3 linked regions of the Homo sapiens genome follow. The protein of the gene in region 1 binds, or shares a complex with, the protein of each later gene. Each region holds a gene or a part of one and is shown in the gene's direction. Other genes may lie near its edges. The genes, in order: EIF2B2, EIF2B3 and EIF2S1.

The links.
Region 2: EIF2B2 (region 1) and EIF2B3 share a complex: the UniProt entries of both Homo sapiens proteins name them as parts of the translation initiation factor 2B (eIF2B) complex.
Region 3: the proteins of EIF2B2 (region 1) and EIF2S1 are in contact, whole or in part, in a cryo-EM structure (PDB 6K71), measured with the Homo sapiens proteins. Residues at the interface, in NP_055054.1 of Homo sapiens: Glu92, Arg95, Gln128, Ser131, Asn132, Glu135, Ala136, Glu139, Val142, Glu143, Glu145, Glu149, Asn150; in NP_004085.1 of Homo sapiens: Leu51 (codon at 3,272), Ser52 (codon at 3,275), Arg53 (codon at 3,278), Arg54 (codon at 3,281), Ile56 (codon at 3,287), Asn60 (codon at 3,299), Lys61 (codon at 3,302), Leu62 (codon at 3,305), Arg64 (codon at 3,311), Arg67 (codon at 3,320), Lys87, Ser91.

Annotation. Positions count from the first base shown.
Region 1 is NC_000014.9:75,003,982-75,012,866, forward strand, and holds the end of EIF2B2 (translation initiation factor eIF2B subunit beta), read left to right. Parts: intron 1-755; coding exon 756-919; intron 920-1,884; coding exon 1,885-1,980; intron 1,981-2,595; coding exon 2,596-2,733; intron 2,734-3,740; coding exon 3,741-3,807; intron 3,808-5,049; coding exon 5,050-5,207; 3' UTR 5,208-8,385; downstream 8,386-8,885. UniProt on the Homo sapiens protein: Acts as a component of the translation initiation factor 2B (eIF2B) complex, which catalyzes the exchange of GDP for GTP on eukaryotic initiation factor 2 (eIF2) gamma subunit.
Region 2 is NC_000001.11:44,981,991-44,993,649, reverse strand, and holds the start of EIF2B3 (translation initiation factor eIF2B subunit gamma), read left to right. Parts: upstream 1-7,054; 5' UTR 7,055-7,157; intron 7,158-11,659. UniProt on the Homo sapiens protein: Acts as a component of the translation initiation factor 2B (eIF2B) complex, which catalyzes the exchange of GDP for GTP on the eukaryotic initiation factor 2 (eIF2) complex gamma subunit.
Region 3 is NC_000014.9:67,361,647-67,372,513, forward strand, and holds part of EIF2S1 (eukaryotic translation initiation factor 2 subunit 1), read left to right. Parts: intron 1-3,120; 5' UTR 3,121-3,121; coding exon 3,122-3,362; intron 3,363-10,867. UniProt on the Homo sapiens protein: Member of the eIF2 complex that functions in the early steps of protein synthesis by forming a ternary complex with GTP and initiator tRNA. This complex binds to a 40S ribosomal subunit, followed by mRNA binding to form a 43S pre-initiation complex (43S PIC).

The DNA of each region.
Region 1 (8,885 bases):
CTCCCTAGAGAGCCAAGGTCGATAGACCTCCTTCACTATCTGAATTTTTATACACACGTACACGTATACCATTTCTATCCCCCTTGTCATTGCGGTCCAAGTGACTTGCAGATATTCATTGTAATCAGAGGATGAAGAAGCTGCTTCCAAATTGCTCCCCCATTTTTTCTTCTCTGGCCAGTCTCTCTCATGTAGAAGTGTTGTGGCCACCTTTTGGAGGAAGACTTCTTTTAGGCCGAAGCTCTCTTTACCCTATTCTCAGCACTTTAGGATTTCCCAGATTGCCATTCCTTGGCTGAATCTACTGTCTTCAAAATCAGTTGTAAGGAGCTCTGTAGTGACAGAGGTGGTTCATAGGTAGGGGTACTTCTGGAAGAGGGCAGGCAGAAAATCCCAGAGGAGTGGGGCTTTTAAGAAATTGTGACATAGCTGGGCATGGTGGCTCACACCTGTAATCCCACAACTTTGGGAGGCCAAGGTGAGTGGATTGCTTGAGACCAGGAGTTCAAAACCAGCCTGGGCAACATAGTGGGACCCTGTCTCTATTAAAAAAAAAGAAATTGTGACATTTCACTTTAAGCACATTAACCCTGTGGTACCAGGGTCTGCTAGGTGGGCAGTGCATGTGAAGGGCAGACATCTTTTTCCGTATACGCGTAATGTGTGTTTGTGATATAGCAATTTCATATATATATATATATATATATATTTTTTTTTTTTTTTTTTTTTTTTTTTTTGCAAAACCGTTCTTACAGAAGGGACAATGGAGAACATTGCAGCCCAGGCTCTGGAGCACATTCACTCCAATGAGGTGATCATGACCATTGGCTTCTCCCGAACAGTAGAGGCCTTCCTCAAAGAGGCTGCCCGAAAGAGGAAATTCCATGTCATTGTAGCAGAGTGTGCTCCTTTCTGCCAGGTAAGGAGACTGCTGGAGTTGCTACTAAGAAAAATGAAAAATGAAGAAGAAATAAACGAGAGATGGGTAGGGCCATTCCAACCTTGAATTGATAAGCAAGACTTTGAGACACTGAGAAGATCAAGTAAAACATTAAGTGAATTTTCAAGGTGTTCGTCCTGTGAACATTCATAAATAGTGGTTTAAGAAAGTTGGGGCCGGGAGCGATGGCTCATGCCTGTAATCCCAGCACTTTGGGAGGCTGGGCGGGTGGATTACCTGAGGTCAGGAGTTCGAGAGCAGCCTGGCCAACATGACAAAACCCCGTCTCCACTAAAAATACAAAAATTAGCTGGGCGTGGTGGCACATGCCTGTAATCCCAGCTACTCTGGAGGGTGAGGCAGGAGAATTGCTTGAACCTGGAAGGCAGAGGTTGCAATGAGCCAAGATAGCGCCACTGCACTCCAGCCTGGACGACAGAGCAAGACTCTGTCTCAAAAAAAAAAAAAAAGATGGCGAGCTGCTGGGTTCAAGGAAAGATAACTTGATTCTTTTAGGAATCAAAGCAGGGTAAATTACCTTGGGGATGACTAATGCTTGGTCTGACCTCACTTGATCCTAAGTAAATAATAGGTCTCAAAAAGGAAATATGTAAGGATGCAGGTTGTTTTAAAATAATGAGCCAGGAGCTATCTTGTCAGCAATCGTGATTATATTATACATGCATGTTGTATTTCCAGTTTTATGGCTGCTCTGGTGCTGCTGTGGAGCATTAGACATTTATTAGCTTCCCCTGGGCTTCCCTACAGCTTACCAGAGCTATGAGAGTCTGAAAAATCAGTTGTCCGAAAAATGAGTTATCTATTGGAAATTATGTGCTGGATATGCCCATATCACACAATTCCCCAGATCCAGTTACATTTGAGAGCACTTTTCACTATTTCTCACTCTTTCTCTTAGAATCAGCCTTTCCCTCCCATTGCAGGGTCATGAAATGGCTGTGAATTTGTCCAAAGCAGGTATTGAGACAACTGTCATGACTGATGCTGCCATTTTTGCCGTTATGTCAAGAGTCAACAAGGTGGGTATATCTGGAGTTATGTTGAATTCATGAAGATTATGTTTCTAAAATATTGATTTTTATCTCCTCCTGTAATATCCACGGTGAGAGAATAAAGTTTCTAGCACCTTTCAAAGTACATACTTAGGCCTTTTTAATCTGTTAACTGAATTTCTTTTCCCTTTTTTCTGCATCATTGTTCCTCTCTTGGAGTAGCCTCTAAATTTGGTTGAAGCATTGAAAAGAATGAAGTATTAAATAGAACTAAGGCAAGAGTGTCAGTTTCTAGGGATTGGCTACAGGGCTCCTGCCTTATGCTCAAAGAGCTTGGCAGTTGTGGATAGTGAATGAAAAAGATTCCTGGCTTCTCAGAAGGTATGGCATCTCAATTTCCAGAAAATATGGGACTGAGAGCAGTAGGTTTTGCAGTTTCTTGTCCCATTTTACATTCATTCTTTCCTTGGAAACCTACTTTTAAGCTAGAACTTGTATTGAGCCAGGGATCCCTTCACCTCTACCAGTCTGTGACCCCTCACGATACCAATTCTGAGGTCTAAGCATTTAGCTTTTTGTGGCCAGTGGCCCTTTTAGGGCTCCACCCCCAGGATGGCTCACATTTTTTGTCTTGTCCCAAAGGTGATCATTGGCACGAAGACCATCCTGGCCAATGGGGCCCTGAGAGCTGTGACAGGAACTCACACTCTGGCACTGGCAGCAAAACACCATTCCACCCCACTCATCGTCTGTGCACCTATGTTCAAACTTTCTCCACAGGTAAGTGTGTCTGTCTCTAGCTAGAAGCCAGCAGAAAAGAAGGAAGCCAAAGGGTAGGCTTGAACTCTGGGACTTCAACCACCTCACTCCAGGGCCTCCATTTATCTGCATTTACTCAATGGATTACACCCAGTGGAGGCTGGAAAGAACCACAGAAGTCTTGATTCAGTAAAACAGTTGAGAGTTCTCAGCTGTCAACTTTAGGAAGTCAAGATTGTAAGGACAATATGTAGTTGGGAAAGGTCCTTTGCTTACGATTGCCACCACTCCCTGTCGCCTGACCATTTCTGAAAATGCCAAGCAGGTTGAAAGTAGGATCATAGAATCAGTTTTGTTATTGTTGCAGGGCCTGTCCTTTGTAACCTGAATACAAGCAAGGACTAAGTGAAGAGCCATTTCATCAGTGATAGAAGCTATTTGCTTTGAAAACATCAACCTATTTATAGGTCTCTATTTTTTAAATTGAGGTGAAATTCACATAACATACAATTAACCATTTTAAAGTATACAATTTAGTGATATCTAGTACATTCACAGCATTGTACAACCACCACTCTCTAGTTTCAAAACTTTTTCTCCACTGTAGAAAAACACCCTGTACCCATTAAGTAATCTCTCCCTATTTGTCCTTCTCCCCATCTCCTCCAATCTGCTCCTGTCTCTATGGATTTGCCCATTTTGTATAAAAGGAATCATATAATATGTGACATGTTGTGCCTGACTTTTTTCACTTAGCATGATGTTTTCAAAGTTCATCCATGTTGTAATGTCAGAATTTCCTTTCGAGGCTGAATAATATTCCATTATATGAACATACCACAATTTATTAATCCATTCATCTGTTTATGGGCATTTGGGTTGGTTCCAGCTTTTGGCTTTTGTGAATAATGCTGCTATAAGCATCTGTGTATAAGTTTTCTGTGTGGACATATGTTTTCATCTCTAGGGTACATACCTAGGAGTGGAATTGCTGGGTCTCTAGTTTTTATAAATTTTTTCCTTTTTAGTTCCCCAATGAAGAAGACTCATTTCATAAGTTTGTGGCTCCTGAAGAAGTCCTGCCATTCACAGAAGGTACAGAAGCTGTGTGTGCATGCGTGCATGTGTTGTGTGTATTCGGGGTTTGTGTGTGCATGTGTTTTGGTCTTTTTGTTGTTTTGTTGGTCAGTAGAACTGAATGCTGTCAAGTTGTGTTTTTTATCATACTTCTTGTGGGGACTGTTTTCTTTAGAAGCTCAAAGTGCTTGAGGACCTGACCAAGTCCATGTTAATTTGTTCTGAGACAAATATATTTTAGATTTGTTGGGGCTATTGTGGGTTGGATCATTTAGCATTGTCTGGGTTTGGCTTTGCATGCTGTTTGAGATATAGACAACAACCAGTTGGGAAAATGTACCTGTTTTCCTGCTATAAGGAGTCATTTTGGTGAATTGACTCCCAAAGGAAGCAGGTTGTGAAATGTTCCTCCTTAGAAAACTCACCTGTAGCCTGGATAGTCTCATGTCTTGGGGTTCTTTTCTCTGGCTTCTTCTGAAGGCAGCAGCTCAGCTCATTACGCGTGCAGCCTCATCAGCAAGGGTGGCCTTACACACCATCTGAGAGCAACGCATAGTAGTTGGTTGGGGTCCTAGTTCCTCTTGGAAGTTGATTGACTTCATCCCTTTATTTAAATAAACATTCAATCTTCAAGAAATAGTTATTGAGCACCTACAATGTATCCAGCACTCTTCTAGGCACTGAAGATAAAACAATGAATGAAAAAGATAAGGCCCTGTTCCCACACATTCTATTGTGGAAGACAGATGAGAAAGTATCAGGTCATGGGATGCCTGAGGACAAGCAAGGCTGATGTGGTAGAAAGTGGCTAGGGGCCTGAGATTGAGGAAGGGTCTTAATGAGATGACATTTCAGCTGAGTCCTGAATGAACAGAGTCCACCATATGAAGATCATAGTTTTCTATGAGCTGGTGCAGGGGCTTAGCCAGTTAGAAAAGGATGGCCATACATGGCTAGACAGTAATGAGCAAGGGGGAGAGTGGTCCAAATTGTAATTCATGTGGTGTGTCAGGGAGGGCCCAGATCTTAAACTTCAATCCTGAGTTTGAATTTTATTCTGAGGGCTGTGCAGAGGCATGGGAGAGTTGTAAGCAGGGATTGTCATGATCTGAAGTCATCTCTTCTGGTTTGCATTTTTCCATAGCTTCCCGTCCTTGGGGAGCTAATATGCCTGCATTCTCGAGCCTGGAATCTATATGCTACTTAATTATGAGAGAGGGAGCCTCAGTTTTACCTTTAGCATGTGTGCTTGCCTTTCAGGGGACATTCTGGAGAAGGTCAGCGTGCATTGCCCTGTGTTTGACTACGTTCCCCCAGAGCTCATTACCCTCTTTATCTCCAACATTGGTGGGAATGCACCTTCCTACATCTACCGCCTGATGAGTGAACTCTACCATCCTGATGATCATGTTTTATGACCGACCACACGTGTCCTAAGCAGATTGCTTAGGCAGATACAGAATGAAGAGGAGACTTGAGTGTTGCTGCTGAAGCACATCCTTGCAATGTGGGAGTGCACAGGAGTCCACCTAAAAAAAAAATCCTTGATACTGTTGCCTGCCTTTTTAGTCACCCCGTAACAAGGGCACACATCCAGGACTGTGTCTTGCCTTTCAGATCTTAACAGAGCAGCAGGGCTTAACTTGTTGATTTTGGAGCCTCTTAGTGACCTGGTTGCGTCTGTGTCAGGAACTTAAACTTTCTGGTTCAGTAGTGTGTTAAACATAACACTGAATACCTTACTGGGATACAGATTTTTGCTCAGAAATGGCTATGACACTTTTTCTAGGCTCTACCAATAAAAGCCACTTGAAGGTTCCATAGTTGGTTTATTTATTGTCCTACTCTGACAGAACTGCTTGAAACAGCAGCAGCAGAGCCTTTTTTGTGTTTGCATAGAGGGCTGTAGTTAGCGGGAAAAGTGTACAACATGGTAGTACTGGCCAGATGCAGTGGCTCCCACTTGTAATCCTGGACTTTGGGAGGCTGAGGTGGGAGGCTTGTTTGAGGCTTGTTTGAGGCCTGGAGTTTGAGATTAGCCTGGCAACATAGCAAGATCCTGTCTCTACAAAAAAATATTTTAAAAAATTAGCCAGACATGGTGGCACATGCCTGTGGCCTCGCTATGCTGGAGGCTGAGGTGGGAGGATCACTTGAGCCCATGAGTTCAAGGCTTCAGTGAGCTATCATTGTACCACTGCACTCCTGCCTGGATGATAGAGCAAGACTCTGTCTCTAAAAAAATAACAAGTACAAATGAAAGTATAGTTTCCTTTACAATTCACTGCTCCTGGCCCCAAAGTTTGTTCATAGTCTAAAACAGTAGTTCCAAAACCTCGCTGATCATCAGAATCACCTGAGAGTGATTCCGATCACTCACTCACACAGTCTTGGGTTTCATCTCAGTCCTACTGCATCTGATCTCAGGGTTACTACCTGGGAATCTGTTTAAAGCTTCCCAGAAAAGGATAGTCTCATGTAGTGTTTATAGGACTATAAATTGGTACAGCCTTTTAGAGGGCAATTTGGAAGCTGTATTTCTAGAATTATTTGTACAAGCAAAAAGATTTATACAGAGTGTTCAGTGTAGTAGTTGTAATGTCATAGCCTAAGTGTCCAGCAATAGGAGAAAGGTTAAGTATTGACAGTTACACCGTGGAACATTATACATGGCAATAGAAGTTTCAAAAGGATGGCTGGAGGGGCAGTGTCTGGATTGAAGGCATTTGGGCTGGTTCACTGCATTTAATGTGAATTTGTTACCAATATTTAAAAATCTGGAGATTGCACATTTCAAAAATTCAGATTTCTTGCTTTTCTTGAAAACTCAAATTTGGCAACTCTGGGCCAACATTTCCAAATGGCAGTAGTTAGTTTGTGGTTGGGTAACATCTGATGCCATTGGATGGAACATCTCCAGTTTTCTGCAGTTCCTACTGGATCCATTTAACTCATTTATGTTATCTGCCTAACCCCTGTAGGCATTTGAGTTGTGATCCTGGTGTTAAAAGAATGGGACAGATTTGCAAGGAAGTCCATTTGATACTCTGTTAGTTAAAAACAAGCTGGGGAAAAAAAACACAACAAGCTGCAGAGCAATATGCATAATACGGACTCATTTCCATAAAACAACACTGGCTGGGCGCAATGGCTCACGCCTATAATCCCAGCACTTTGGGAGGCTGAGGAGGGCAGATCACTTGAGGTCAGGAGTTTGAGACCAGCCTGGTCAAAATGGCGAAACTAAAATACTATAATAAAATTTTTAGTTCCACTAAAAATACAAAAATTAGCCAGGTGTGGTTGTGGGTACCTGTAGTCCCAGCTACTCGGGAGGCTGAACTTGGGAAGTAGAGGTTGCAGTGAGCAGTGCCATTGGGCCACTGCACTTTAGCCTGGGCAACAGTGGGTGAGACTCTGTCTCACAAAAACAAAACAAAATTATATGTACACGCATAGGGAAACAGTATAGAAGTATAATACCAAGCACAGCAAGCAGAGGGACATCCTCTAATTTTGTTGACATGTTTATGCTTACATATTGTTTCCGGTTTTTAACCTAAAAAGTCTCCCAGGTGATCCAGATTTTCTGCCATGTTTAGGAACTAGTGGTCCAAAGCAGGGCCTCTTGTGCAGTGTCTGTGTGGGTGGAGGGAGCACTAAGAATCTGCATGTTTAACAAATAGCCTGTGGGCTTTGAACAGGTGATTTGAAACCACATTTTGGTTAACACTGGGCAGAGGTAGGTTCTGAGGGAAAGGTCTCTATTCTTTGATATCTCTTTGAGAGCGATCTTTGCCTTAGGTCTTCCAGAGAGGGGAAAAAAGTAAGACCTCAGAAAGTCGGCATTTTACACTGACCTAAAAGCTGTATGACTCAGAAGAGCCTGACTCACTCAGGCTCAGTCTTTCTATTATTTCTTAAAGCATCTAAGACCCCACGCTTTCTCAGTGAAGTGGCTTGTAGCTACCAATTACGAGCAATTGTCTCCTCCAAAGGCACCAATTCTAACAGCAATTCACTTGGGTACAATTGTGTGGTTTGGAGTAAGAGCAGCAGTGAGGCAAGGAACTTAAATCTGTTCCTGGCTCCAAAAATGCTTTATGATACTTGTCCTTTGTCCATCTTAGTCTCTGTGTCTAAAATTAGCACCAACATCCTTCCCAGGCATGACTGAGTTGGATGAAGGTTATAAGGGTAGAAGCTCTCTTTCTGGTCAGCTCTTACAGTGCCTAGAACAGAACTGCAGGAATGCATACTTTTTAGAATCTTTATGACCCCAATTAAGTAAACCCTATTAAGGCTCATCTTCTTATTTCCCCTCTCTCCGTTTCCCTATTTGAGGAGGGGTAAGTATCAGAAAGAGAGAACCTGAACTGAACAGGAGGAAACAGAAGTTCCACATCAACTCACTACCTGTCAGCCTTGGTATCAGGGGTGCCCACCTCCCACCCCTGCCTTGCTGGCGGAACCGAGAAACTCGGAAAAAAACAAACAAAAAAACAACTGTTGTAGCTTGGAGAGAATTAATAGAACTAGGATTCCATGGATGTGAAAGTCTTCCTCAATATGCTAAATAAACCAAGTTAGATAACAGTGCAGTTTGTAAAGACACTTTTTTCCCACGGTTTCTATCTTCCAGTTTGGGCAGAGGGCAGGAAAGGCACAATTCTTGGAACTTGAATAAGGAACAGAAATTCCTAATTTAGCCTCAGAAGAGACATCTCTGAAAAATACTCTACCAGGAAAAACTGAAGTGTAAAATGATACCTCAAAGAAATCAATGCTGGAACCCATAGGATCATATGTTTCATGGATGTGCTTCAAAACTATTTCTCAAAGCAATCTGTTGCATCAGTCTTTGGGCTAATGAAGGCTGCCAGTCACAGTTCCATCATGGAATGACTGGCATACTCTGTAATGATCTATAATACTACAACTACATCAGAACTGCTCTGCCATACAGATAGTACCAGATGGTGATGTGATTATTGTAAAGGCCTCACACTATCCACCTGTCCTTGCAAAAACTCCCTTAGCAGACATGCACCTAGTTGACATGAAAGAACAATTTTGAAATGTGATTTGGAAGTGTT
Region 2 (11,659 bases), on another chromosome or scaffold:
AATAAACATTAAGGCCAGGCGCAGTGGCTTACCCCTGTAATCCTAGCACTTTGGGAGGCTGAGGTAGGAGGATCCTTTGAGCCAAGGAGGCAGAGGTGCCAAGATCATGCCACTGCACTCCAGCCTGGTCAACAGAGCAAGACCCTGTCTTAAAGAAAAAAAAAAATTGGCCAGGCGCAGTGGCTCACGCCTGTAATCCCAGCACTATGGGAGGCAGAGACGAATGGATCACTTGAGGTCAGGAGTTTGACACCAGCCTGGCCAACGTGGTGAAGCCCCGTCTCCACTAAAAATACAAAAATTAGCCAGGTGGCGCACACCTGTAATCCCAGCTACTTGGGAGGCTGAGGCAGGAGGATTGCCTGAACCCGGGAGGTGGAGGGTGTAGTGAGCTGAGATCATGCCACTGTACTCCAGCCTGGGTGACAGAGTGAGACTCTATCTCAAAAACAAAAACAGGCCGGGCACAGTGGCTCACACCTGTAATCCTAGCATTTGGGAGGCTGAGGCGAGCGGATCACGAGGTCAGGAGATCAAGACCATCCTGGCTAACATGGTGAAACCCCATCTCTACTAAAAATACAAAAACAAAATTAGCCGGGTGTGGTGGTGGGCACCTGTAGTCCCAGCTACTTGGGAGGCTGAGGTGGGAGAATGGCGTGAACCTGGGAGGCAGAGCCTGCAGTGAGCCAAGATCGCGCCACTGCACTCCATCCAGCCTGGGCGACAGAGTGAGACTCCATCTCAAAAAAAAAAAAAAAAGAAAGAAAAAAAATTAAACAAAGTCAGTTACACTTAAGAAGGTCTTTGATTAAGCAGTAAACTATATTAATTTTATTAAACCTTGGCCTGAGTACATGTCTTTTTTTTTTTTTTTTTTTTTTTTGAGATGAAGTCTCATTCTGTTGCCCAAGCTGGAGTGCAGTGGCATGATCTTGGCTCACTGAAACCTCCACCTCCCAGGTTCAAGTGATTCTCCTGCCTCAGCCTCCCAAGTAGCTGGGAATACAGGCACACGCCACTGTGCCCGGCTAATTTTTGTATTTTTAGTAGAGACAGGGTTTCACTATGTTGGCCAGGCTGGTCTTGAACTCCTGACCTCGTGATCCACCTGCCTCGGCCTCCCAAAGTGCTGGGATTACAGGCGTGAGCTACTGTGCCCAGCCCATTTTTTTTTTTTTTGCTACCAAATATACTAGTTTACTGAGTATGTGTCTTTTTAATATTCTGTATGATGAGATGGGAAGTACACATTTAACCCTTCTGTGCATACAAAAGAAGTATGATGGTTGTCTCCAAGAGAAACAGTTTTGTGATAGTTTGAGCTGCGAGTTGAACTACTGCTTTTTCATGGAGCACTATATTGAATCGAAAGAACAACTGGAGGTGGCTGCACAGTCGTGGCGGAGGTGACCAAAGCCACATAATGTCCGTAGTTCATTCATCCACCCATGCCAAGTGGATCGTGGGGAAGGTGATTGGGACAAAAATGCAAAAGACTGCTAAAGTGAGAGTGACCAGGCTTGTTCTGGATCCCTATTTATTAAAGTATTACAATAAGCGGAAAACCTACTTTGCTCACGATGCCCTTCAGCAGTGCACAGTTGGTGATACTGTGCTTCTCAGAGCTTTACCTGTTCCGCGAACAAAGCATGTGAAACATGAACTGGCCGAGATTGTTTTCAAAGTTGGAAAAATCATAAATCCAGTGACAGGAAAGCCCTGTGCAGGAATTACCTACCTAGAGAGTCCATTGAGTTTGGAAACCACCCAGCTAAGCAAAAATCTGGAAGAACTCAATATCTCTTCAGCACAGTGGAGGAGGAGTGGAAGAAGGCACTAAAGGGAAAGATTGACATGTTTATGTTATGGAAAAAGAAATTTTTCTAAGTTGCATTGCAAACTGTGTCCAGTTTATCTGTGATGTTTATGAAATAGCTAAAAGCAAATGAAGGGCATATTATGGTTTTTCATTTAAAAAAAAAAAAGAACTGACCAACTATGCCTGCCGATGTATAAACAAAGTGAGCCAGTTACTTCAAGGGAAACCACTAATAGTATTTGCTGCCAATGAGCTTTGAAGAGAAAATTAAAATTTTGGGGGTTTTTTGTTTTTGTTTTTGTTTTTCTGAGACGGAGTCTCACTCTGTAGCCCAGGCTGGAGTGCAGTGGCGCCATCTCAGCTCACTGCAAGCTCTGCCTCCCGGGTTCACGCCATTCTCCTGCCTCAGCCTCCTGAGTAGCTGGGACTACAGGCACCTGCCACCATGCCGGGGTAATTTTTTTGTATTTTTAGTAGAGACAGGGTTTCACCGTGTTAGCCAGGATGGTCTCAATCTCCTGACCTCATGATCTGCCCACCTCGGCCTCCCAGAATGCTTGGATTACAGGCGTGAGCCACTGTGCCCGGCCAAAAATTAGAATTTTATAAAACTTGTATCTGTCATCATCAGCTTCCCAGCTTTCTAATATTTAAGAATTTTTCTGATGAAATTGTTAGTGATATTAACAAATGTGATTTTAAAATATTGTATAATGAGTCAATGTTAGGAAGATCTGCATAACTCTGTGAACGAATATTTTACATATTATTTGTATACCAAGTTGCAAGGTCATGCATGGGTAAAATGTCCATTCAAAGTGCAAGTACTGTAACAAGGTACAAAATGTTCATTGATATAATTTCCGATTCTACATTGCAACAAACCTTTAACAAACTACCACTTATTGAATTTTGGTATAGTGTCAAAGAATACCTATAATTATCTGAAAAGGCTATTAAAAGCTCTATCTCTTACCAACTATGTATCTATGTGAAGTCACATTTTTATGATATAATTAAACCAAAATAATATATTACAATAATGGAAAAATCAAGCTGTTTTCTATTAAGCCAGACCCTAAAGAGACTATTCAAAAAGGTGAAACAATGGCATTCATCTCACTAAACTTTTTGTTTTGAAAATGTAGTTGGCCAGGCACAATGGCTCATGCCTGTAATCCCAGCACTTTGGGAGGTCAAGGCGGGCGGATCACCTGAGGTCAGGAGTTTGAGACTAGCCTGACCAACATGGAGAAACCCCGTCTCTACTATAAATACAAAATCAGCTGGGTGTGGTGGCGCATGCCTGTAAATTCCAGCTACTTGGGAGGCTGAGGCAGGAGAATCGCTTGAACCCGGGAGGCAGAGGTTGCAGTGAGCTGAGATCGTGCCATTGCACTCCAGCCTGGGCAACAAGAGCAAAACTCCGTGTCAAAAAAATAATTTTTTTTCGATATGGTAAATATTGATAAATATAATCCATATAAACAAAAGCTTTCTGGGGTCCTCAGTAATTTTTAAGTATGAAGAGTCTAGAGATGAAAAAGTTTGAGAATTGTTGCCCTCAGGGAATAATTTAAAGTGAGTTTAAACTGAAGCAATCTCTCAACTACTTTCCACAATAGAAGAGAAAACCCTCTAGTTCGTTGAAAAACATTTGCTAGTTTAAACATAAGGATTTGAAATGGATGGCAGATATGGGGCTGACTGCTCTTCTTACTTATAATTAGTTCTTACCTCAAACCCATGCTGTAATTTCCAAGTCTTGGTTGAGGTAATACCAAAGAGAGAATATCTCTGTGTTTCTATAGAGGGGTAGTCAGACTTCAGGCCTCCTGTGGCCAGATCAGTCAGTTCATGGCAAGGCAAAGATAGGCTGGTTTTAGGATATGAGTCCCCCCCTTTTTTTTTCAGGGTCTAAGCAGACCTCCTTCTGGAAAAAATGACAAGTCCTAATCATTAACTGCTGTATCTGCAACACCAAGCATCTAAGACACTGCTTGGCACATATTAGGCACTCAAGATATTGTTGAAGCCAGTCCTCCATGGCACATACCTGTAGTCCTAGCTACTTGGGAAGCTGAGGCAAGACGATCGTTGAGCCCAGGAGTTTGAGTCCAGCCTGGGCAGCATAAGCTGACCTCATTTCTAAAAATAAATGAATAAATATTGTTGAATGAAGTCAAGCTCCTTTATTTTTATTACAGAAATCATGCTCTACCTTTTAACTGGCAGGAAGCTAAAGCAACTCAAGATTTAAGAGATGAATCAGGCTGGGCACGGTGGCTCACGGCTGTGTCCCAGCACTTTGGGAGGTCGAGGCGAACAGATCACGAGGTCAGGAGTTCAAGACCATCCTGGCCTATCTGATGAAACCCCTTGTCTACTAAAAATACAAAAATTAGCCAGGCGTGGTGGCGCATGCCTGTAGTCCCAGCTACTCGGGAGGCTGACGCAGGAATCACTTGAACCCAGGAGGCAGAGGTTGCAGTGAGCCAAGATTGTGCCACTGAACTCCAGCCTGGTGACAGAGTGAGACTGTCTCAAAAAAAAAAAAAAATTAATTAATCGAAAAAAAAGGAAGCTTTCAAAAGATTAGGAAATTGCAGGAATGCATGGGAAAAAGAGAATGGCCATTGGTCCTGTTATCTAGTGCAACTTGATAAACCACTCCAAACCGTAGAGCTTAGAACAACAATTATTTTATTATCTATTCGTCATTTTTTAATATTTATTTTATTTACTTAGAGATCCTGTCTCTTTGTTACCCAGGCTGAAGTGCAGTGATACCATATTGGCTCACTGCCACCTCTGCCTCTTGGGCTCCAGCGATCCTCCTGCCTCAGCCTTCCAAGTAGCTGGAACCCCACAGCGCGGCACCACACCTGACTAATTTTTGTATTTTTAGTAGAGAGGGTGTTTCACTACGTTGCCCAGGCTAGTCTCGAACTCCTGGGCCCAAGGGATCCATCCGCCTCACTTCCTAAACTTCTGGGATTACAAGCGTGAGCCACCGCACCTGGCCTATTATTGTTTTGTTAAAAGCAGGGTCTCGGCTTTGCAAATGCAGCCACCGACGCCAGGAGCTCTGTACGATCAGCCATGGTTAACCCCACCGTGTTCGACATCGCTGTCGACGGCAAGCCCTTGGGCCGCGTGTCCTTCGAGCCGTTTGCAGACAAGGTTCCAAAGGCAGCAGAAAACTTTCGTGCTCTGAGCAATGTAGAGAAAGGATTTGGTTATAAAGGTTCCTGCTTTCACAGAATTATTCCAGGGTTTATGTGTCAGGGTGGTGACTTCACATGCCATAATGGCACTGGTGGCAAGTACACCTGCGGGGAGAAATTTGATGACGAGAGCTTCGTCCTAAAGCATACACATCCTGGCATCTTGTCCATGGCAAATGCTGGACCCAACACAAATGGTTCCCAGTGTTTCATCTGCACTGCCAAGACTGAGTGGCTGGATGGCAATCCTGTGGTCTTTGGCAAGGTGAAAGAAGGCATGAATATTGTGGAGGCCATGGGGCACTTTGGGTCCGAGAATGGCAAGACCAGCAAGAAGATCACCATTGCTGACTGTGGACAACTCTAACAAGTTTGGCTTTTGTTTTATCTTAACCACCAGACCATTCCTTTTGTAGCTCAGAAGAGCACCCCTTCACCCCATTTGCTTGCAGTATTTTTTTTTTTTTTTTTTTTTGAGACGCTGTCTCACCCTGTCGCCCTCTCCCAGGCTGAAGTGCAGTGGCACGATCTCGGCTCACTGCAACCTCCACTTCCCGGGTTCAAGCAATTCTCTTTCCTCAGCCTCCCGAGTAGCTGGGACTACAGGCGCACGCCGCCATGCCTGGCTAATTTTTTCTTTCTTTCTTTCTTTCTTTTTTTTTTTTTTTTTGTATTTTAGTAGAGACGGGGTTTCACCATGTTGCCCAGGCTGATCTTGAACTCCTGAGCTCAGGCAATCTGCCTGCCTCGGCCTCCCAAAGTGCTAGGATTACAGACGTGAGCCACCACGCCCGGCCTGCTCGCAGTATCTTATCTTTGTGCTCTTGCTGCAGTTCCCTTTGGGTTCCATGTTTTCCTTGTTCCTTTCCATGCCTAACTGGATTGCTGAGTTAAGTTTATGATTATGAAATAAAAACTAAATTAAAAAAAAAAAACAGGGTCTCACTCTGTCGTCTAGGCAGGAGGAGTGCAGTGGCCCGATCATAGCTCACTGCAGCCTCGAACTCCTGGGCTCAAGCGATCCTCCCGTTTCAGCCTCCTGAGCAGCTGGGACTACAGGCACACACTACCATGCCCAGCTAATTTTTACTTTTGTAGAGACTGGAGGCTCTCTCGCACAGGCTGGTCTTGAACGCCCGGTTTCAAGCAATCCTCCCACCTCGGCTTCCCAAATTGCGGAGATTACAGGCATGAGCCACCATGCCCAGCCGCCCCCAGTTTTGATGGCTAAAGTTAACGTGAGTGGCCCTGTTACAAATAGGAAGTCCCGGGCCGGGCGCGGTGGCTCACGCCTGTAATCCCAGCACTTTGGGAGGCCGAGGCGGGCGGATCACGAGGTCAGGAGATCGAGACCATCCTGGCTAACACAGTGAAACCCCCGTCTCTACTAAAAATACAAAAAAATTAGCCGGGCATGGTGGCAGGCGCCTGTAGTCCCAGCTCCTCGGGAGGCTGAGGGAGGAAAATGGCGTGAACCCGGGAGGCCGAGCTTGCAGTGAGCCGAGATCGCGCCACTGCACTCCAGCCTGGGCGACGCAGAGCGAGACTCCGTCTCAAAAAAAACAAAAAACAAACAACAACAACAACAACAACAAAAACAAATAGGAAGTCCTGGCAACCCCTGCAGGGGCATTCGGTGATTTTTTTCACTAGCTAGCCAAAATTGCGGCTCCCAATGAGCTTTCTTTCACCGAATGTACTCGAAGCCAGGTCTTAGACTTACTCCCTGAGGAAAGAGGCTGAGTTGTTCCGTCTGGGTTCCCGGCACCCTGCACTGGGAGGAATACTCAAAAGGCGTTGGTAATGTGTTAATGGACAGAGGGACACACGTGTCGAATGCTCCTCGGTGGCCCCGCCCCCTCCGGCCCGCCTTCCCTCCTCTCCGCTGAGTGTGCTTCCCCTCCGTCATCCATCGCTCGGCGGTCTTCTCTTCTCCATGGGTCTGCTCTGCGCGTTCCATCGAGTTTCTCGGCCATCGCGCGCCTGCGCCATTGGGCTGTCAGTCAGAGGCGGCGTGGAGATCGCTGGGAGCGGTTGCGGCGTGCCGGGAGCTGAGTTATAGCTGTGACTTCTGCCCTGCCAGGCCGCACACAAGCTGGCTGACCCGGGTGAGCAGTGCGGTGGGGCCACTCATCTGAGGGAGGCGGGCATGTCGAACTGGGCCGAGGTGGACCCGAAGGGGTAGGAGAGGGTGCTGAGCCCCGAAGTTGTCAGCTCGACTCCCTGCTCGACCCGGTGTAGCTGTGTCCGAAGTAGAAGGGAGGTTGGGGATGAGAATCCGAGCCAACCACCTTATGCAACAGATGGAGGAACTAAGTTTCTAATCTCAGCTACTCGAGAGTCTGAGGCAGGAGAATCGTTTGAACCCAGGAGGTGGAGGTTGCAGTGAGCCTAATTCGCGCCACTGCACTCCAGCCTGGGCAACATAGTGAGACTCTCCGTTTCAAAAAAAAAAAAAAAAAGAAAAGAAAAGAAAGAAACGAAGTTTCGGGGAGGGTTCTGCTTAAAGTCACAGCGAGTGAGCGAGCACCAGACCGGTACCAGACGCCTTTAGCACTGTGCCTGCACTCTTTCAGCCTCAGCCCTTCATTCATTTGTTCAGCCTGCCTTTAGTTGTTTGGATGCAGGGCAGTGAAATATAGGGAGGAGCAGTGAGGTCTCTGCCTTCAGGCAGCACACGTGGAATGACAGACCAATTCTGATACAGTTTTCTTATCTATTTACAACTGGAAAAGGCATGAGTGCTATGATGCAGGCAAGTCTGAGATGCGGTGAACACCCTCTCCAAAGCTTGGGAGGCAGCGAGACTCGTTGCCATGATTCCCGTCAGCCATAGTCGTGGCAGTGACATGAGCATTTGACAGTCTGCCTGGTAGCATGATTAGTTATGTTCATGATTACTATTCATGCTTCCTAGGTTGCCTTTCTTCACCCAGGGCCTCCTTGAGAGCTGGAACCTCAGTTCCTAGTGACCTGGGTTCTAATGCCCTTATGCACATGTTTGAGTTTGACTCTTATACAGTTGTGAAGTTCACAGGTCCTCATTCCACTTTGATTTCTGGCATCTGACTGGGAATACAGTGATGATGCACACACAGTCCAAGAAAGTCACTCTTACACTCTTATGTAGACATTTAAGAGACATTAATGTTACACTTAAGTAGACATTTAAACACATACGTGCAATGAAACCCGTAAAGGCTAAGAGAATCTGCACATGGCAGAATGGAAGCACTTCGGGAAAAGGAGTCACTTCTGGAGGGGTGGGAACGGTTAGGAATGGCTTTGTAGGCAAGAGGATTCTTGAGCTGTCTTCAAAGTTTAATAGGTGATTACTAGACACAAGAGAAAGGCAGACTAGGAAGCAACAGTAGCAGTGCAGAGACCAGAATTATGAAGCAGCATGGCTCAATTAGTACGAAGGTTTTCCATAATCTAGTCTCTGTCTAGTAAAGCAAATACAAATATAGTGCTTCTCATAAGATGGACATTATTGGCCGGGCGCGGTGGCTCACGCCTGTAATCCCAGCACTTTGGGAGGCCGAGGCGGGTGGATCATGAGGTCAGGAGATCGAGACCATCCTGGCTAACAAGGTGAAACCCCGTCTCTACTAAAAATACAAAAAATTAGCCGGGCGCGGTGGCGGGTGCCTGTAGTCCCAGCTACTCGGGAGGCTGAGGCAGGAGAATGGCGTGAACCCGGGAAGCGGAGCTTGCAGTGAGCCGAGATTGCGCCACTGCAGTCCGCAGTCCGGCCTGGGCGACAGAGCGAGACTCCGTCTCAAAAAAAAAAAAAAAAAAAAGATGGACATTATTTTGTCTGCTTTACGTAGAATAACAAATTTAATCTTAACAACAACTCTGTGAAGTGAAACTATAATTATCCCCATCATAAAATGCAAAAATTGAGGCATAGAAAATTTACGTAGTTTGCCCTAGTTCACACAGCTAATAATAAATAGTAGAGCTAGAATTCAAACCTAGGCATTCTAGCTCTATGGTCTGTGAACCTAACCACCAGGCTTCCTTCTAGAAGCTGAGGACACTGAGAGTTTTAAATGTCAGGCCCCTGATCACACCTATGAGTGTCAGAATCATGACTCAAACTCATCTTTTGACTTTTTTTTTTTGGGACAGGGTCTCACTCTGTTGCCCAGGCTGGAGTGCAGTGGTGTGCAGCCTTAACCTCCCAGGCTCAGGTGATTCTCCCACCTCAGCCTCCCGAGTATCTGGGACTACAGGCATGCGCCACCATACCTGGCTAATTTTTTATAGAGATGGGGTCTCACCATGTTGCCCAGGCTGTTCTAGAATTCCTAGGCTCAAGTGATCCTCTCATCTTGGCCTCCCAAAGTGCTGGGAGCATGAGCCACTGTGCCTGGCGCTCTTTTGGCTCTTTTTTATTTTATTTTATTTTTTTTGAGACGGAGTCTCACTCTGTCGCCCAGGCTGAAGTGCGAGTGGTGTGCTCTCAGCTCACTGCAGCTGCTGCCTCCCGGGTTCCTGTGATTCTCCTGCCTCAGCCACCTGAGTAGCTGGGATTACGGGTGCCTGACACCATGCCTGGCTACTTTTAAAAATGTTTTTGGTAGAGGCCGGGCGCAGTGGCTCATGCCTGAAATCCCAGCACTTTAGGAGGCCAAGGCAGGTGGATCACCTAAGGTTAGGAGTTCAAGACCAGCCTGGCCAACATGGTGAAACCCTGTCTCTACTAAAAATCCAAAGAATTAGCCAAGTATGGTGGCGGATGCCTGTAATCCCAGCAACTTGGGAGGCTGAGGCAGGAGAATCGCTTGAACCTGGGAGGCAGAGGTTGCAGTGAGCCAAGATCATGCCATTGCACTCAACCTGGGGAACAAGAACTCTGTTTCAAAAAAAAAAATTTTTTTTTAGTAGAGACAGAGTTTCACCAAGTTGGCCAGGCTGCTCTTGAACTCCTGACCTCAGGTGATCCGCCCGCCTGGGCCTCCCAAAGTGCTGGGATTACAGGCGTGAGCCACCACGTCCAGCTCATCTTTTGACTCTTAAGGGTCCAGTGCTCTTTTCATAATAACATTTGATGTGGTGGATGTTATATAATACCAAAATGAAATTAAATTACACTTTGAGGCAATGCTTGCTAGAATCTACATGACCATATCTTTACATTGTGAATGTTATGCAGGAGCCTTCACTTTGTGCCTTGGGTATAGTAGGTGTTAAGTGCTGCACTTTAGATGTTGATGTGCTGGGCCCAGGAGTAATAATAATTATAGTAAAGTTGCAACATTATTTGGCAATTTGATGTTGAATAGATTGTTTCTTCTGAACGTTACATTTTAACACATTTGTTCTTAAAATTACATCATTGTAAGAGAAAGTACTTTCAGTTTAAATCAGTAAAGATCGGTCAGGTGCAGTGGCTCATGCCTCTAATCTCAGCACTTTGGGAGGCCCAGGCAGGAGGCCTGAGGCCAGGAGTTTGAGACCAGCCTGGGCAGCATAGTGAAACCCCATCTCTATAAAAAATTAATTAAAAGAATTAGCCAGGCGGCCAGGTGCAGTGGCTCATACCTGTAATCCCAGCACTTTGGGAGGCCAAGGTGGGCAGATCACCTGAGGTTGGGAGTTCGAGACCAGCCTGACCAATGTGGAGAAACCCTGTCTCTACTAAAAATACAAAATTAGCTGGGCAGCTGGGCGTGGTGGTGCATGCCTATAATCCCAGCTCTTTGGGAGGCTGAGGCAGGAGAATCACTTGAACCTGGGAGGCAGAGGTTGTGGTGAGCTGAGATCGTGCCACTGCACTTCAGCCTGGGCAACAAGAGAGAAACTCCGTCTCAAAAAAAAAAAAAAAGCCAGGCATGGTGGTACCCACCTGTAGTCCCAGCTGCTCCAGAGGTTGGGGCAGGAGGATTGCTTTAGTGCAGGAGGTTGAGGCTGCAGTGAGCCATGATCTTACCACTGCACTTCCAGACTGGGCAATGGAGCAAGACTCTGTCTCTAAATAAACAATAAATAAATAGGATGGGCACGTGGCTCACACCTGTAATCCCAGCACTTTGGGAGGCCGACTCCGGTGGATCACCTGAGGTCAGGAGTTTGGGACCAGCCTGGCCAACATGGTGAAACCCCATCTCTACTAAAAATACAAAATTAGCCAGGCATGGTGGCCCATGCCTGTGATCCCAGCTACTCGGGAGGCTGAGGCAGGAGAATCGCTTGAACTTGGGAGGTGGAGGTTGCAGTGAGCCGAGATCACGGCATTGCACTCCAGCCTGGCAACAAGAGTGAAATTCCATCTCCAAAAATAAATACATAAATAAAGATTTATGACCTTCTACTGTGCCTCTGTTCTGTGGTAGTTTCTGTAAAGAGATTCTTTTCAAAGTCAAATAGGTTTGTTTATTACCTTGAGTTTGAAAAAAGGAATTAACAGTTTGGTTTGTTTTTATAATTGTGTTCTGTAAATCTAGGTTCAGATACAAGCCTACGTTTGTGTTTATAGTGATATCTTTAAAAATTGGAGGAATAAGATGAGCCGATGGCTGAATTATTGGAGGAGTCTTAAGTCATTTCATACTTTTCAGAAGCCTAACATGCTTGTGTTTCTGCTGTTAATTCTAGTCAG
Region 3 (10,867 bases), 7.6 Mb from region 1:
TTTGTCATGCAAAATAACTGACTATGCAGGGTATTTGAAATTAGCCTGGAGTTTGGTTGATATATTTTGAAAGGTGGCTGATACTTTTTACATCAGAACACATAAGAGTATTATAGCATGTTGTGATATTGAGGTTCTGTGGGTTAAAGACATTCTGGATTTGATGTCGGATTACTTGAGTTTAGCTCCTACGCTAGTACTTATTAAGCATTTGTTCTTAAGGAAGTATTATAATTTAGTATTTCTGTTCCACCTTTCCTGTTCATTGCTTCACTGTGCCCTTTCATAGTACTTTGTATTGTAATTATTTGCTTGCTAGTTTGTTTCCCACTCTATACTTAATTACTTAGGTAAGAGTCTTTTTTTTTTTTCTTTTTTCTTTTTTCTTTTTTTTTTTGAGACAGAGTCTCTGTTGCCCAGGCTGGAGTGTAGTGGCACGATCTCAGCTCACTGTAGCCTCTGCCCCTGGGTTCAAGGGATTCTCCTGCCTCAGCCACTATAGTAGTGGGATTACAGGTGCCTGCCACCACACCCAGCTAATTTTGGTATTTTTAGTAGAAATGGGGTTTCACCATGTTGACCAGGCTGGCCTCGAACTCCTGGTTTCAAGTGATCCACCCGCCTCGGCCTCCCAAAGTGCTGGGATTACAGGTGTGAGCCACTGCGCCTGGCCTGGTAAGAGTCTTTCTTGTTGTATCATTAGTGCTTAGTACATAGTAGCTACTGAAAAAAAAATTAACAAATTATTATATTACAAAATGGAAATACCTTCTTTTTCTTTCAATATTTTATGTTTGACTAGCACATAATGGTTTTCAAAATGTTTTTACGTATACATGTGATACCCTCAGTAAACCTGTGATGTACATGGCACAGATGAGAAACTACAGTTCAAAGGATGTTATCTTTCCCAAGCAGCCACTTCTAGTAAGTAGCAGAGCAAGGACTGGAACACAAGGCTAGAGTTGTTCCCCGAGTTTACTATGTTAATTGCCTGATTTGACACTTCTTGAGGACCAAATAAAATAAGAATGCTGTGAAAAAGATAAAGAGGTGAAGTCACCTAGTGTGACTTCGATATTGCGGAATGATTTTTTTAAGTTAAAAAAAAAATTTAAGTTATTAGCATTTCATTAGGCAATATGTTCAAAAATTGTCAACCAATATGCAGGTTTTTGTGGTATGGATTCTTTTTGTACTTAACTACTATCTATCTTTACTATGAATAACATACCATCAACAGTATTCCTTTACTTACCCTTTATGTTGCAAAGAGACTTGTGCCTCCTGAAGAAATAGTATTCATAGTCATATCCCTTCAGGATTCTCTTACATGATTGCCCATGTTTTTTAACCATCAAATTAAGCCTTGCTTCCCCTAAAAGCATCACCTTTACTGTTTGGAGAAGCTTGGTAAGTAAATGTGGTTTTCACTGGTCAAATGTCTTGCAACTGTTCCATACATTTCTGTAACATAGTTTATTTTTATGCCCAATTTGAAACTTTTTAGCTCTCAAATTTGAGAGCTTTACATACACATATTCAACAACAGTTTCCCCACCCCCACCCTCGAAAAGCCCTGTTTAAAAACGAAACAAACAGTCAGCTGTTTCTTGGTGGGTAAGGCCATTGAATGTCTACTTCTCTTTATTTGCTAAATCCCTATTTTGTAGGGATTTTGTATTCCCTACAAAGAAATACATCTCTGCTACTGTCATTAATATGCTGCTCTTTGTTGTCAAACAGATGAGTACTAATAGTTTGCACTTATTGGTGTTATGTACTCTGGCACTGAATATATATTAATGTTGCTTTTTAAGTAAAATGTTTCTAATTATAATATATTTATGAATAGTTTTGAGAGAATATAGTCTTACTGATAAGAGGACAGACTCTGGATCCAGACTTCATGGATTCAAATCCTGACTCATCACCTGTTAGCAGTATGTGAAAGAACAAGTAACTTAACCTGTGCTTCAGTTTTTTAATCTATAAAATGGGGAGAACTAGGGAGAAAGTTGTACCACAAGGAGATAGGCAATGGCCAGATCATATAGGATTCTGTAGGTAGTGGAAAGATACATAAGTCAGTGGGAAGCCACTGAGAAGATATAGGCAGGTGCCAATTAATAAGTTATTATATGAATTTTCACAAGGTTTTCTTAGGCCTTTAAGTTCTGTTACTACCTACGTTTTGAGCAGTGACAACAGTGAAGGTTAACAGAAAAACATGAAAATCATCAGCCATGATTAGTTTGAGAGCTTCCTTTTTTAAATATGCTTCTACCCAGGCTATGATTTCAGGCTTGTGGATCATAAAAGGAGTAGTGCTGAAAGTAGGTTGGGTGGATCAAAGGGAATAATTGTAAATATCTTTAATGCTTGGAGGTTAAGAGAAACTTGAACTTTGTAGTAATGGAGATTAAAGCTATTCTCAAGATTAGGTATACCTATTCAATAAAAGAAAGGAATATTTGGGAGTATTGGGGATAAGAGAAGCTAGACATTGTGAATTCAAGGAAAAAGAATTATGAGAGGAGGATGCATTTTAGTTTATTTTGTGATTAAAATTTTTTTAGTTTTTGTTGTTTTGACATGTGACACTGTAATTTTGGCTATAATAAATGACAGAATGTATCATTTGGTATATTGGTTAGGGTTTAGGTAGAAAATTTTTTCCTTTATATAGTGAGTGGTAGCGTATACAATGTTTGCTCACTTCGGCAAAGAGTAGCTTTAGTTTTCTGATTAGTTATAATAGTGATGCTTCCCATCATTTGATATGCCTTAAAGTAGTATTTTACTCTTGAGGTATTCCTTTAATCCTTAGGTCTTGGAGTACTTTATAGATGGTCATTATTTTTTATGATTCCTCTGAAACTAAAGGCAGAGAATCACCCAAGCATTACAAAAATGTTGAGCAAAATAAAAATTAAAGCTTGGTTCCTGAACATTATCTGTTTTCTGGTACCACTTAAGAAGTTTCAAAGGATGAGAAGACTAAGACTAATAACTATTTTTTTCTTCATCTTTTCTTTCAGTGGCAGGATGTGGAAATTGATTTTTTTTTTATTTTCACCTTAACTGAATACTTACTTAATTCTTTTGTTTAAATTGCAGAATGCCGGGTCTAAGTTGTAGATTTTATCAACACAAATTTCCTGAGGTGGAAGATGTAGTGATGGTGAATGTCAGATCCATTGCTGAAATGGGGGCTTATGTCAGCTTGCTGGAATACAACAACATTGAAGGCATGATTCTTCTTAGTGAATTATCCAGAAGGCGTATCCGTTCTATCAACAAACTCATCCGAATTGGCAGGAATGAGTGTGTGGTTGTCATTAGGGTGGACAAAGAAAAAGGTAAGTGAGAAAAATATCTGTAATATAAATTTCAGATTTAAAATGGTTTATTTAAAAATACATTTTTTGTAAATTGCAAGCTGCAGCTTAAAAAAAAAAGCTCCTTTTATACTTAAACCTTTTACATACAAAGTTGTTAGAAAAGGATGCCAATTAGCTATCTAAGCAAGATCTCTTAATAGTAGTTTAATTAGTACATCCTAGGATTTTATGGATCAGATAACTTGAATTTTATTTCTAGTGTTTATCAGGATCTTGATAATTGACTCATGGTAACCAAACTTAGAGACAGGTAAGTCAGAGTACTAGTTCATTTACATTGGTAGGCCTGAATATGTTGGATGCCTTTTTCTTGATTTAAAGCTAAAATAGTAATGAGATCACTGGGTAAGCATGAAAATGGGGCAAATGGATTTTAGGGATCTTTTATATAAGCTTTGAAAAAGCAATATACTATGCGTGTATATACACACCTGAAATCCAACATTGTATATCTTGCTGGTAATTAGAATGTTTGCATCTACCAGATCTCGTGGTATCTTTCAGACAGTTTTGGATGAGCATTCATTTTTTACTTATTGGATGCCTTTTCTGGGCCCCATGTAAATCATCACCTTTGTGAATACTCTTTTTTTAAACATGGTGTACAATACCATTACGTAGGTTTTAGTTTCAGCCATCTTACTATAATTTGTTAGGTGTTAGTTTTAGGTCATTAGTTACCATCATGTCCGAAAGGCTTCATATCAGTCACCTTGATTCAACTTACCCTTCTGAATCTCCTCAGCCGTCTGGTTTACTGATACTTTCTCACTTCTGCAAGTGATTAATTTTATACATACTGACATTTTAATTTTTTTTATTATAGCCTTAGATGATACATAGATTTTGAGGATGTCTTATGCCTTAGGTAGTGACTGCTACTTAGCACATGGATTGTTTTAAATGTTTTGCTATGACTTAGCTATAGCCCCGCCCAAAATTATTAAACTACTTTGAGACTATTTGTTAAACTTAGGTAAGTCTTCACATCACTGTCCTAGTAGTACCTAAAGTAGTGTCTAATCTTGTACTTTTTTTTTTTTTTTTTAAGAATTGGGGTCTTGCTCTGTCACCCAGGCTGCAGTGTAGTGGTATGATCATAGGTCGCTGCAGCCTTGAACTCCTGTGTTCAAGTGTTCCTCAAGCAGTCCTCCCAAGTAGCTGGAACTACAGGCATGTGCCACCCTGCCCAGCTAACTTTCTTTGTAGAGATGGGGTCTTGCTGTGTTGCCCAGGCTAGTCTTGAACTGGGCTCAAGCGATTCTCCTGCCTTGGCCTCACAAAGTACTGGGATTACAGGTGTGAGCCACTGTGCTCAGCCTTCTTTTTCTATTGTATAAAATATACACAAAAGGAGGAATCAAATATGTTTTTAGTTGCAATCAGAAAAAATATGGAATGGCATACTTGCTTACGTACAGTAGATACATGTAAAGATATTTCCATAGCATTTGTTTGTATGGCATTAACTAAAACCAGGAAATGACCAAAATGGGGACTGGTTAAATAAATCAGTACAAATGCGTGCAATGCAATTTTATGCAGAATGAGATCTGAATATTTTGATATGGAAGATCTCCAGGATAGGATGAGAAAAAGCAAAGTGCAAAAGAGCCTGTAGAGAGGATTCATTTTGATACTAGAGAATTATGTCCTCCTAGACAAGCCTTTCAACGTAAATGCCATAAACCCTGAACAAGTATGAAAAATAACTACCTAAAGACAATGAGAAGCAGCCAAAAGCAGGCCAAAATTGAAAATTTGAAGGTGAGTCGACACTTATAAGAAAGGGTATGTTTTCTGTTTTACACCTTTTTTTTTGACCTAAGTACATGCTGAAGACAGCTTCAAGCCAGGCAGCTAAGGTTCTAGCAGAAAATTTATGGTCTTATTGGCTTTAGAACTGGAGGCGAGAGTTGTAGACAACCATAGTAGATGGAAACTGGTGGTGATAGTGGTGAGGGTTAGAGAAAGGAGGCGGCAGGCACAAAGGGAGATCCCCTAAGTCTATATAAATTCTTCCCAAATCTCTGGTTTGTCCCTGAACTACTGAAACACAGGGTGGACTCCAGGTAGCCTAATAGGGGAAAAATCTGAACAGATTTCAGTTGCTTACCATCTGGGGAGACAGAGCTTATAGTTTTGAGTTCAGATTCTGACTGCCTGCTAAAACAAAAAATCTATATTCTCTTTTTTTGGGGGATGGAGTCTCACTCTGTCGCCAGGCTGGAGTGCAGTGGCACGATCTTGGCTCACTGCAACCTCCGACTCCCTGGTTCAAGCAATTCTCCTGTCTCAGCCTCCAGAGTAGCTGGGATTACAGGCACACACCACCATGCCCAGCTAATTTTTGTATTTTTGGTAGAGACAGGGTTTCACCATGTTGGCCAGAATGGTCTTGATCTCCTGACCTTGTGATCCACCCGCCTTGGCCTCCCAAAGTGCTGGGATTACAGGCGTGAGCCACCACGCCCCACCCCATCCAGGTCACTTTGTGCTAAGTGTTCTACACTTGGTCAGCATTCTCATAAATACGGTGCATGGAATGGAACACGGTGGGCACGTTGCGTGAACTCACAAATTCAAGACCAGCTGGGGCAACATGGCAAAACCTCATCTCTACAAAAAATACAAAAATTAGCTGGGCGTGGTGGTGCACCCTGTAGTCCCAGCTTCTCGGGCGGCTGAGGTAGGGGGATGGTTTGAGCCCAGGAGGCGGAGGCTGCAGTGAGCCAAGATTGCACCGCTGCACTCCAACCTGGGTGATAGAACCAGACCTTGTCTCAAAAAAAAAAAAGAGAGAGGTGAAGGAAGTTCTTTAAGCTGAAGAGATGTGATGACCTGACATGGAAAATATATAGGTAAATGTAAAAGACTATTTTTGCCCTTCTTAGTTTCTTTAAAAATATATTTAACTATTTGTCTCATTTGTGCCTGTGGGATTGTAATCTATAGAGGTGACTGAGTGATGACACAGTCCAATGCCCTTGAAAGAAAACTTTTACTACTTATATTGCCTGAGAGAAGGGGGCTTGATGTGCCATGCAGGGCCACATGGGGAAGCACCAGTTTTAGTCAGGAGTCACAAGGAACTAGGGGAAAAAGTAGGTCAGAGCTTTTGTTGGAGTTTCTGCAGGAAAAGCAAGGCAGAGCAGCGTAAACGGCTTGCAGTTGGCTAGTTTGAATGCTTTTGGCGGGCCTTGGGGCATAAAGACTGCCCTGCTTGTCTAATACCTGGCCCTTGACTTACAGCAGGGAGAATTTTGGCTTGGTGTATGAGTTTATGGGCTCCAGATTGGCTGCTCTGCATAAGAAAGGCATGCTACCAAGCAAGCCCTTTGCTGACTCCTCCCCACCTGACGGAGGGGCAGTCTCTCCACAAATGTCAGAGCCTCAAGAATACAGAAAATAAGAAAATATTTAGTTACTACTAATAATATTAATAATAAAATATATAGTTAATACAGTTGGCTCTGTGATTAATGGATGCCAAGTAGTTAAATATAGAAGCTAAGAAAACAGAATACTGTTTAAAGCAGGCTTAGTACACTTGACAACTTAATCACAAAGGCCAGGAGGTGTGGGGTAAATAGATCTATATGATTCTTAACGATTCTTACATTTTATGTGCAGTAGTAAAATTAAAAGGTTAAGGATGTATATTGTAAATTCTAGAACAACCATTAAATAAGCCAGTTGCAGTGGTCTGTGCTTGTAGTCACAGCTGTTCGGGAGGCTGAGGTGGGAGAGTCACTTGAGGTCAGTAGTTCAAGACCAGCCTGGGCAACATAGTGAAACTATCTCTAGAAATAAGTAAGTAAAATACAAAATACACTATTGTAAAAGCCAAAGATATATTAAAATGGAATTCTAGAAAACATTAACCTAAAAGAAAACTCAAAAGAAAAAAACAAAAACCAGAAAGAACAAATAGAAAACAAATACCTAAAATGTAGGTATTCAATTATTCAGTTATTGATACAACTGAATTCATTTATATCAGTAATTAAATGTAAATCAAGTAAATATTCCAGCTAAAAGGCAGAGATTGTTAGGATGAATTAAAAAGCAAGACTCGACGATAATCCTGTCTACAAGAGATATACTTGGTTGAAAATAAATGGATATAAAAAGATATGCTATGCAGACAATACCTTAAGGAGACAGTGTCTATTAATATTAGATAAAGTAGATTTAAAGACATAGTATTTTCAGATTTAAACAGGGACATTTTGTAATGATAAAGGGTCAATTTGTTAGAAGGAAAACAACAGTCATCACTGTGTATGTGCCTAATAATAGAGTTCAAAATATAAAGCAGAAATTGAATTCAAGAGAGAAATAGACAAATCTATAATCATAGTTGGAAGTTTGAACAAGCTCTGAACAATTGGAGAAACAATTAGATCAATGAAGACCTTGACTTGTTTGATACCTAGAACACTGCACCCAGAAAAGGCAAAATACACATTATTTTCAAGTGTGCATGACATTCACCAAGATAGACAATAAGGTGAGCTATAATATTAATACAACTCTAAATAAATTTCTAAGGGTTGGAATACAAATATGTTCTCTGATCACACTGGAAGTAATTTTGAAATCAGTGTCATATCTTGGGAGGGAAGAGTTTGCAGTATTAAATAAGCCCTTCCAAATAATTCATATATTAAAGCCTTAAGGGAAAATTTATAGCTTTAATTACTTATATTAGAAAAGAATAAAGATCTAAAACAGTTATCTAGGCTTTTGTTTTAGAAGATAAAAGAAAGGAAAGGTAAACTCAAAGTTGCTGAGACCAGCTCTGTTGGGGAGACCCTAACCCAGAGGCGCTAGAGGAATTAAAGACACACACACACAAATATAGGGGTGTGAAGTGGGAAATCAGGGGTCTCACAGCCTTCAGAGCTGAGAGCCCCGAACAGAGATTTACCCACATATTTATTAACAGCAAACCAGTCATTAGCATTGTTTCTATAGATACTAAATTAACTAAAAGTATCCCTTATGGGAAATGAAGGGATGGGCCGAATTAATTGCAGCAGGAACACGTCCTTAAGACACAGATCACTCATGCTTTTGTTTGTGGCTTAAGAATGCCTTTAAGCAGTTTTCTGCCCTGGGCGGGCCAGGTGTTCCTTGCCCTCATTCCTGTAAACCCACAACCTTCCAGCTTGGGCGTTAGGACCATTATGGACATGTCGCAGTGCTGCAGAGATTTTGTTTATGGCCAGTCTTGGGGCCAGTTTATGGCTAGATTTTAGGGGGCTTTCTCCCAACACAAAGTAAGTAGAAGAAAAGAAATAATAAGGATAAGATAATCGGTGAAAATAGAGTACCAGAAAATCAGAGAACAGTATCAAAGTTAAAAACTTGTTTTTTGTTTTTTTAAAAAAGAGCAAAATTGATAAACCCCTAGTTAGGCTGATGAAGAAAAGGAAATAACACAAATTACCAATCTGGAATGAGAATGGGGCTATCACTGCAGATGCTACAGACATTAAAAGGCTAATAAGGGAATATCATTACCAATTTTATGCCAATCATCTCAACAAATCAGGTGAAATTAGTGAATTCCTTGCAAAATTTTACTTACTGAAACTGACCAATATAAAATAGAAATTTTGAGTGTCCTATATGTTAGAGAAATTGAATTTATTGTAAAAAATCTTTTCATCAAGAAAATTCGGTCCTGACCAGCACAGTGGTTCATGTCTGTAATTCCAGCACTTTGGGAGGTTGAGGTGGGCAGATTGCTTGAGCCCAGGAGTTCAAGACCAGCCTGGAAACATGACGAAACCTCATCTCTACAGAAAGTAGAAAAATTACCCAGGCATGGTGTTGTGCACCTCTAGTCAGTTCCAGCTACTAGAGAAGCTGAGGTTGGAGGATTGCTTGAGGCCAGGAGAACAAGTCTGCAGTAAGCCGAGGTCATGCCACTACACTCCAGCCTGGGTGACTAAGACCCTGTCTCAAAAAAAAGGAAAACTCTAGGCCAGATGGTTAAATTGATGAGTTGTATCAGACATTTAAGGCAGAAATAAGATGAGTCATAATAAAATTTCAGAAAGTTAAGGAGGTAGGCCAGGCACGGTGGCTCACACTTATAATTCCAGCAATTTCGGATGCTGAGACAGGAGGATCGCTTGAGGTCAGGATTTCAAGACCAGCCTGGCAATATAGGGAGACCCCATCTCTATAAAAATTTTAAAAAATTAGCTGGGTGTGGTGGTGTGTACCTGTAAAGTAGTTCCAGCTACTTGGGAGGCTGAGGTGGGAGGACGGCTTGAGCCCAGGAGTTTGAGGCTGTAGTGAGCTGTGATCACACTGCTGTATTACAGCCTGAGCAACAGAGCAAGACTGTCTCCCACCAAAAAAAAAAAAGTTAAGGAGGCGGGAACACTTTCGAAATACAGTCATGTGGTGCTTAATGACAAAGATACATTCTGAAAAATGTCTTATCATGCAAATTTCATAGAGTGTGCTGCTTACATAGACCTTATAGCCTATACACACATAGGTTGTTTAGTATACTCTATTATTCCTAGGCTACAAACCTGTACAGCATGTTACTATACTGATTAGGTAGTTGTAACACAATGGTAAATATTTGTGTACCTAAACACAGAAAAGATACAGTAAAAATACAGTATTATAATCTTAACAGCACTGCTGCTATATATGCAATCTATTGTTTACTGAAATGTTATGCAGTGCATGACTAATTTTATGAGGCCATCATAACCCTGATAAGAAAACCCAACAAAGACATGTTTTTGTAAAAAAGCAAATTACTGACCAAATATGTGATTAGCATAGATAAAACAATTAATATGTTTTTCAAATCCAACAATGTATAAAAAGGATAATAAAGCATGACCAAGTGGAGTGTATGGAATGCCAGTTTGGTTTAACAGTCATAACTTTATGTTGGCTGGGCATGGTGGCTGAGGCCTGTAATCTCAGCACTTTGGGAGGCCTAGGTGGGGGGATCACTTGAGCCCAGGAGTTCGAGACCAGCCTGGGCAACATAGCAGGACCTCACCTCTTTTGTTATCTCTCACTTCTTTTTATTTAAAAAAAAAATTAAAAAATTTATGTGTGCTTTTATATGATCAGTTAATTAACAAAAGTACAAAGGCAGCTGATCAAAGAAAAAATTATCTTTTTAACAAATGGTGCTGGGACAACTGGATGTCCATATGCAAAAAAGAACCTCAATTCAAACACCTCACCTTATACAAAAGTTAGCTTAAAATGAATCATAGATGTAAACTTCTAAGTACCTCTAGAAGAAAACAGGAATCTTTCTGACCTTGGATTAGGCAAAGATTTCTTAGATAGCACACTAAAAGCGTTATCCATGAAAGGAAAAATTGATTAATTGGACCTTATCAAAATTAAGAACTTATGTTCTTTAAAGACACTATAAAGAGAATAAAAAGACAAACCAGCATATTTTA